3 separate regions of the Homo sapiens genome follow, and all the other regions are linked to region 1. The links come from fine-mapping of genetic effects on gene expression. A gene starts in region 1. Each other region holds a variant in brackets. All regions are shown on one strand. Distances are between the middles of the regions.

The links. PIP is the estimated chance that this variant, and not a neighbour inherited with it, causes the effect.
Region 2: its variant is the best candidate, but not a certain one, in a credible set for the expression of SLTM in whole blood (TOPMed, PIP 0.89).
Region 3: its variant is the best candidate, but not a certain one, in a credible set for the expression of SLTM in blood mononuclear cells (TOPMed, PIP 0.87).

Annotation. Positions count from the first base shown.
Region 1 is chr15:58,932,363-58,935,121 of GRCh38, reverse strand. SLTM (SAFB like transcription modulator) reads left to right here and starts at 1,443. Exons shown (of 21, transcript NM_024755.4): 1 at 1,443-1,718; 2 at 2,679-2,759. The coding sequence starts at 1,557. RefSeq lists enhancers at 997-1,086, 1,107-1,246, 1,537-1,776 and silencers at 1,277-1,456, 1,827-2,086.
Region 2 is chr15:59,522,847-59,525,605 of GRCh38, reverse strand. It overlaps FAM81A (family with sequence similarity 81 member A), which reads right to left. Exons shown (of 9, transcript NM_152450.3): 9 at 2,051-2,759. It also overlaps the pseudogene RPL21P114. Among named protein-coding and RNA genes, the nearest start is that of FAM81A, 86 kb to the right of the region's middle. The variant T/G (reference allele first, on the strand shown) is at 1,117.
Region 3 is chr15:58,883,306-58,886,064 of GRCh38, reverse strand. It overlaps SLTM (SAFB like transcription modulator), which reads left to right. Exons shown (of 21, transcript NM_024755.4): 20 at 2,279-2,439. Among named protein-coding and RNA genes, the nearest start is that of SLTM, 49 kb to the left of the region's middle. The variant C/T (reference allele first, on the strand shown) is at 1,183.

The sequences.
Region 1 (2,759 bases):
CTGCCTTCCGGGTTCAGGTGATTCTCCTGCCTCAGTCTCCCGAGTAGCGGGGATTACAGGTGCTCACCACCACACCCGGCTAATTTTTGTATTTTTTGTAGAGACGGGGTTTCTACTAAACCCTGTATCTTGGCCAGTTTGGTCTTGAACTCCTGACCTCAAGTGATGGGCCAGAAGATTTCTAAGGAGTCTTGCATTCTAAACTTCTATTATTGTGAATCCAATGTTGTAGCAGAGACAGAGCTGGATTTGGAATCAGGAGCCTGGGATTTGAGCACAGCTCGGCCACATACCAGCTGTGTGAACATGGGCAAGTCATTTAATCTCTCTAAGCCTCACGGAGATTTACTTGACAGACTTGGGAAGGATTAAGGGGGTTACTGTACGTCAAAGTGCCTTATAAACTGTAAAGAACTACCCTAATGTCAGGTATTCTTTTATAATGTCCAGTCTTCCTTTTTTTTGAGCCAATCAGAAAAAGTAACCTAAAGTGAGTCAGATCTCAGGAATTTAAGTTGTAAAACCAGGAAATACAGTATAGTTAATTGTGCATCATAATCACCTTATGGAATTTATAGAATCGTTTTATTTTATCAATGCTTGCACTTTGATAATGAATAATACAAGGTAAAATTACAAATAGGTACTCACTTGTACAGGCCGATCCTCCATAAGAAGATGCTCACTGTTCTTGGAATCCCAAATTTTGGGGGGCAAAATAGTGAACACAGTATATGATAACGGCAACAAGTACTTATAAGCTAGTTTTCTCTTTCATTGAACAATTTCGTGTTGAGCCATCAGGTCTACCGGGGAGGATAGCAAACCTGAGGCCAACAAGAAAGAAGTTTTCCTGTTTTTCAAGTGAGGAAGGGCAGCCCTAGAATAACCTAAGCTGCCATGGGCAGGGCGATGATGTTTTCTCCTGAGACAGCCAATGAGCCATGTGTCAAAGGCCAGCCCTTCCTATTCTTTGGACTAACAGCCCTAGAACTGCTTTGAGGTCTTTTGAATGGAACTCGGGGAACCTAGTTCGTTGGTGCACACCGGCGACAATTTTTCGATTATTCAGCAGAACTGATAAAGTATTTCCTTGAGAGGTTCAGCGCGCGCACGCGCCCCCTCGGTTTGTGTTGAGTAACGCGCGCACTATGTCATTCAGTGCCCGCACATCGTTGTTGCTCAAGACTCAAGACGTTGCAAGAAAATGGCTAACGAAGCGACGAGAGAACGGCGGCGCGGCGGACGTTGCTGCGGTAGGACGTGCCCGACCTCCCAGTCCACACAAGGGAGCGCACCGCCCAAGTGGCCGCGGCCCGCTCGACCGAGCGCGCCGCTGCCGGTCCCTGCGCCAACGCGCACGCGCGGCCGTCATCCGGGTGCTGGCGGCTGCTGCTGCAGGTTGCGCTAGGGTGGCGGACCGGGGGAGGGGCCAGCGGCTCATTGTGCGCAGCGCTGCGCGGCGCCGGCGGCCGCCGAGGCCTGGGTGGAAGTTGGCGCTGCTGCCGCCGCCCTGCAGCCCACTCGCTGCCTCGGCAGCGCGCTGCTCTTCTAAGATGGCTGCCGCTACCGGTGCGGTGGCAGCCTCGGCCGCCTCGGGTCAGGCGGAAGGTAAAAAGATCACCGATCTGCGGGTCATCGATCTGAAGTCCGAGCTGAAGCGGCGGAACTTAGACATCACCGGAGTCAAGACCGTGCTCATCTCCCGACTCAAGCAGGTGAGGCCCGGCGAGGACCGGAAAGGACCGGGAAGGGGAACTTAGGCCGCGCCTCGGCGCCCCGCTTCCGCCGCAGCCTCCGGCTGCCCGCAGCCGCTGGGACCTGCGGAACGGCATGGTAGGGAGGCCAGGGGCGGCTCCCGCGAGCGTGGAGGACGGGGACCCTTCCGCGGTGCCCCCGCCCCGCGCCCCGGGCCGGGCCGGGCCTGCGAGGGACCGGCCACCGCAGCCCAGCGTGCCTCCGCCTCCCCGGGACGTCCCCGCCAGGCTGCGAGGGTTGCGGCCGGCCGGCGCGGCCTCCCAAGGGCGATCGCGGAGACCTGGGAGGCGCTGGCTCCCCAGCCTTTAGCCATGGTGAGCGTGTGCATTTCTTGGCCTCAGAGGGAATGGTTACTTTGGTGACTTCTGCGAAGTTACCGTTTAATTGTGCCCAACCGTTTCTTCCCCATCTTGAGGGGGAATTGGTAGTGGGAGTTGATGGGTGGGTGACAGAGTTTTTGTTTTCCACTAGGCTTTTAGTTTTTGCATCAGCGCAATAATTACTTTTTCTTTCCTGATTAGCTTTCTGGTTTGAGTGAGCGTTGGAATTGTAGCAGAGGAGCAGTAAGTTTGCATTACAGAAACTAGGAAAACTCTTTTTAGTTATTTACTTTAGTAGCTAGCAACTTTTCTGCAATAGAACATATTTGGATTTTTGGCCAGTATGATGTGATATTTAATTATCTTGACACGGTAGAATTTAAAACTCCTTGCGATTTTGATACCTAATGATTTTTTTCCCCTGAAAGTTTCTCTCACTCTTTCGTGTAGTTTAATTGCTCATTTTTGAAGTCGGTTGATGAAATGACTGGCAATTCTAATGTCTTGAGGCTTGAGGTTTGCTAAATTTTTTTTCATTTCGTTTTTATAAAATAAGTTTAGATAGATTGTGTAGCATATTAACTTCTCTTTCTAATGTAGGCTATTGAAGAGGAAGGAGGCGATCCAGATAATATTGAATTAACTGTTTCAACTGATACTCCAAACAAGAAACCAACTAAA
Region 2 (2,759 bases), 590 kb before region 1:
AGTACTTAAAGAGCCAAGATAGTTTCCTAAACGCGGAAGGAAAACGATCAGAAAACGAAGGAACCCAAAGAGAAACGTACCTGGGTTCCGCTGAAGCACCAGCCTGCTCTACGCAGAGAAGCACACTTAGTGAACCAACAGAAGAGGGCCTGAGCTGCTGGAACCTGTTCCCTATGAATTTATGGCACAATAGGTGCCAAAAAATTAAGGACCTCTTGACTGTTAAAAAAAAATCCATGTAATTAGTGGCTACTTATTAGTGCAGCAAGCCTCAGATTTTACATTACAATCACCTGCAGGACTTGAAGCAATTTGGTGCGTCCGTCTCAGAGCCTCTGATTCAGTAGGTCTTGGTGGAGCCTGAGAGTTTTCACTTCTTTTCTTTTTTTTTTTGAGACAGACTCTCACTCTGCTGCCCAGGCTGGAGTGCAGTGGCGTGATCTCGGCTCACTGCAACCTCTGCCTCCCAGGTTCAGGCAATTCTCCTGCCTCAGCCTCCCGAGTAGCTGGGATTACAGACATGTGCCACCACGCCCGGCTAATTTTTGTGTTTTTTGTAGAGATGGGGGTTTCACCATGTTGGCCAGGCTGGTCTTGAACTCCTGACCTCAGGTGATCCGCCCACCTCAGCCTCCCAAAGTGTTGGGATTACAGGCGTAAGCCACCATGCCCACATGTACACATACCCGATTCCCCACTTTCATTTCTTTTGGGTAGGGAGCTCCACTTCTAAGCTCCCTCACATGTCTATTGGAAATTGTCAATTCATCTTGGGCCATTTTTGGTTCAGTTCATCTCAAAAAGTTATTTTGTCGTCCCTATAAATCCAGAGCTAAAGGACCTCAGCAGTATCCTTTTATAGAGTAGACACTGCACTGCAGGCCCACCTGACTGAGACTCAGAGTCCAGATTCCGGCTGGAGCAGGAAGTCGGTAAAATGTCCCCCAGTGACCCCATCCCCAGGTGTTCAGCCCCTTGTGTGATCCCCTCCCGCTGTGTGTGTGCTGGACTTGCTTTTCATGAAGAGACTAGTGGAAGTGGTGGCTTGTCACTTCTGAGATTAGGTTACAAAAGACTAGCTTCCTTCCCGTTCACCCTCTCTCTCACTGGTACTGG[T/G]GGAAGCAAGCTGCTGTGTTGTAAACAACCTGTCAGGAGGGCTGTGTGGCAGAGCAAGGGACTGATGTCACAGTGCTTTGTGATTCTTTTTCCCCCTGAAAGCCTAGTGGGATAATTACAACTTGAACGGAGCCATCTTCTCTGTTCTGCTCTACACTCCCCTACACAATCCATCTCCCGATGTGCAGAGCCAGCCAGGGACCACGACCTAGGACAGCCCAAGTGCAGGGGATGAAATGCCTGTGATCCTACAAGTCCTGTGGCACCAACTGCCCCCCACCTCTGGTGCCTCCACATTGATACAGCCAGGGGAAGACGTTTGACAAGCTAATTAGATTGCCTCATTACGTATTTGGAATCGGGGCATTAAAAAGCGAGGGTAGTCAGATGGCAGGAGGCCAAGCTCATATAGATATGGCTGATGTCAGTGGCCTAGCAAGTCACTTATGTGGGAAGCCAAAATGTCTTCGGAGGTAGTGTGGTATGCTGGTAAGGCTCCCAGAGTGCGGAAGTAGGCGGCCTGGCTTGAATCATGGCTCCCATTTATCAGCTATAGGACTTGGGGCAAGTTGCTTAACCTTTAGGTGACTCTGTTTTCTCATCTGTAAAATGGGGAAATGGTATTGAACTCAACTAGTTAAAATGAAAAGAGTTGACATACACAGGGGACACAGCACAGGCACACAGCACACACCCGAGAACTGCCAAGAGACAAGAAGGCTGCAGAGAAGGCCCTACAGCCCCGAAGCCCACAGACCAGCAGCTCCCAATGACATTCCAGTCGTCAGAGGAGCTGCCAGGACTTGAGCACTTTATTTCAACCATCAAAGCGTTTCCACAGAGAGCAAACAGAAATATTTCCTATGGCATTTTACCTAATTAAGTCTTCAGCTCAACACTGAAAGACTTTTCAATTTAAAAATCATACACCACATTTATGTGAAAATTTTATTTTTCTTTTTATTGCAAATTTCTGGTAAAGGAAAGAACATGGAAGCTGATTCTCATTTGAGCTTTGGTGAGAAGAGAACTGCACTGTGGCTCGACAGCTCACCACCTCGGCTGCACACCCAAACACGCGGAGGCCTCGGGCACGCACTGATGCCTGCGACCCACCTCCCAGAGGTTCTGACTTAATCGGTCTGGGAGGCACAGCGGGGCATCAGTAGATTTCCCAACTCCTCTGGATGATTTCAACATGTAGCCAAGGTGAGCACACCTGCGGTGGCTCATCTCAAGGGGCTGGCAATGTCAGAAGCACCTGAGAAGCTCAGCTGACAGCCAAGTGTCACCTGCTTACATCACTCCTTGGCCAGAGTCCAGCTGGTGTTCCCCGCCTCCCTCTTCCCAGGTGTCGATGTTCTGATTCCTTCTCCTCAAAGACCCCACAAGACAGAGATGCTGGAGGGGGTGTGGCTTCCTGTGCTGTGGTTTGTGCTTAAACGTGGAGAACCACATGAACCACGTGTACGCTACCACAAAAGAAATTCACTTTCTGATTGCAAAACAGCATTCGCCTTTTTTTATTTGTTAAGTGGAAATTTGTGGCAAAATAAGAAAATATGTGTTGGATAATATAGTCCCTATATAACCTCTCATGTCCAAATTTGAAAAAAAAAATTGTCAAGCCATTGACAGCAAAA
Region 3 (2,759 bases), 49 kb after region 1:
TTTGTAAGTTAATGAGCTGGACAGAGGAAAGTGTCTTTATCTTTTAGAGACCGAAATGAACAAAAACCTTTTGCCTCATTTAAAAGTATTCTTCTACTGATGAAATACTGGCGTGTGGGTTGATAGTAGCACAGTTAGGACATACTTTCATAAATTATATACCAAAAAGAATTGTGCAGTGTGTGTGTCTCCATTATATGCTGGTGTTTGTTTTGTATTTTAATACAGTGTGTGTGTGTGTGTTGTTGTTTTTTTTGTTTTGTTTTGTTTGTTTGTTTTTTGAGATGGAGTCTTACTCTGTCAAACAGGCTGACATGCCGTGGTGCGATCTCGGCTCACGGCAACCTCCGCCTCCCAGGTTCAAGCGATTTTCCTTCCTCAGCCTCCCGATTAGCTGGGACTACAGATGTGCGCCACCACGCCTGGCTAATTTTTGTATTTTTAGTAGAGGCGGGGTTTCACCATGTTGGTCAGGCTGGTTTCAAACTTCCGACCATCCACCTCTGTCTCCCAAAGTGCTGGAATTACAAGCATGAACCATGACGCCCACCTCCTAAAAAGAATTTTTAAGACTGAGTCTATAATCCAAATAAGTCTGCCTTGTTTATAGTAAAATTTAAGTATCAAAGACTAGCCCTCCGCATTCAGAGGTCCTTTTAGAAAATGTGTCCTGAGGAGGAGATCTTGTATCCTCCCTTGAAAATTTTCTTTTTCATAATGTTAGTCTGTAAATTGTTCTGCCAGTATTATATCTAAGCCTCTCTGTGGGTACCTTCTGCTTTCTTTCCTGTAAGCTAAGTATCACAATGCTTGCTTTCTCTTTCCATAGATCTCTAGTTCTACAGTTTCTGTTTCTTTGTGTTTGCTACTCTGTTTTCCATAGTTATGGATGTAGCACCTTGTAAGTGCCATAGCACTAAGTAGTACAATGTAAAATAAGTTCACAACTCCTGTTTGCTGTGCTGTCTGCATGTTGTCCTGATAGGCTGATCATAGGCCCTGCCGTGCCTTGTCTTAAGGTTTTGATCTCTGGCTGTGCCTTCTTACAGTCAATATAAGATCCAAGTATTTGAAATAATCAAGGGTCAAAAAGCCCTTGGGTGCTAGAAAATACAGAAATACAAATTAATGGCCAGGCCTGGTGGCTCGTGGCTGTAAACCTAGCACTTTTGGAGGCCAAGG[C/T]GGGAGGATTACTTGAGGCCAAGGGTTCGAGACGAGCTTGGACAATATAGTGAGACCCCCATCTCCATAGGAAAATTAAAATTAAAGATGGGCATGGTGGTGTGCACCCTGTAGTCCCAGCTAGGCAGGAGGCTGAAGCAGGAGAATTGCTTGAGCCCCAGGAGTTCAAAGTTGCAGTGAGTTACGGTAGCAACACTGTACTCCAACCTGGGCAACAGTGTGATCATGTCTCCAAAAAAAAAAATTATTTTTTAAAAAAAGGAATTGGCCAGGTGTGGTGGCTCACACCTGTAATCCCAGCACTTTGGGAGGCCTAGGCGGGCGGATCATGAAGTCAAGAGATCAAGACCATCCTGGCCAACATGGTGAAACCCCGTCTCCACTAAAAATACAAAAATTAGCTGGGCGTGCTGGTGCATACCTGTAGTCCCAGCTACTTGGGAGGCCGAGGCAGGAGAATCGCTTGAATCCGGGGGGCGGAGGTTGCAGTGAGCCGAGATCGCGCCACTGCATTCCAGCCTGGCAACAGAGCGAGACTCTGTCTCAAAAAACAAAACAACAACAACAAAAGTATTAAATCATTTCCTCCATACCCTTCCCTGAGACCTGAGTAGCTTCTCACTACAAAATAGATATAAACTCTTTTCATATGCTGCTGCACTACTCATCCTTTTATCTTCTCAGACATCTTATTAATTTGCTTCTGACATTAAAAGCACACCAATATAAGTTGGTATGAGACCAAGACTGAGGGTATTGTGACTTCTCCTTTTTTTTTTTTTTGAGATGGGGTTTCACTCTTGTTGCCCAAGCTGGAGTGCAATGGCGCAATCTCAGCTCACTGCAACCTCTGCCTCCCGGGTTCAAGTGATTCTCCTGCCCCAGCCTCCTGAGTAGCTGGGATTATAGGTGTGGGGTACCATGCCTGACTAATTTTTTGTATTTTTAGTAGAAACGGGGTTGCACCATGTTAGCCAGGCTGGTCTCGAACTCCTGACCTCAGGTGATCCGCCTGCCTCAGCCTCCCAAAGTGCTGAGATTATAGGTATGAGCCACTGCGCCCGGCCAAGTGACTTTTCATATGCTATTCTTTTAGCACTATCCTGAGGAGCGACATGTGGTTGAACGCCATGGACGGGACACAAGCGGACCAAGGAAAGAGTGGCATGGTCCACCCTCTCAAGGGCCTAGCTATCATGATACGAGGCGAATGGGTGACGGCCGGGCAGGAGCAGGCATGATAACCCAACATTCAAGGTAAATAACTAACCAGTTTTTCTGCCAGCACACAACCAACACTTTATCCTTTCCATAAAAGTCATTATAGTTTCTGAGAGACTGAATTGCAACTACTGAAAACCCTAGATCTGCCTGAACATTTCCCTGTATCAACCCGTAGTCTCCAAAAGAGTGTTTGCAGAACAGCTGATATTAATGTGTTAGTTTGTATTCTTCCTTTTAAATGAATTCAGTGACGTTCTGGCAAGTTGATATAGATATGGGTATGTACGTATGGCAGGATCCAGTAAACAATGAATTCTTTTGTTTTGTTTTGTTTTTTGTTTTTTGAGATGGAG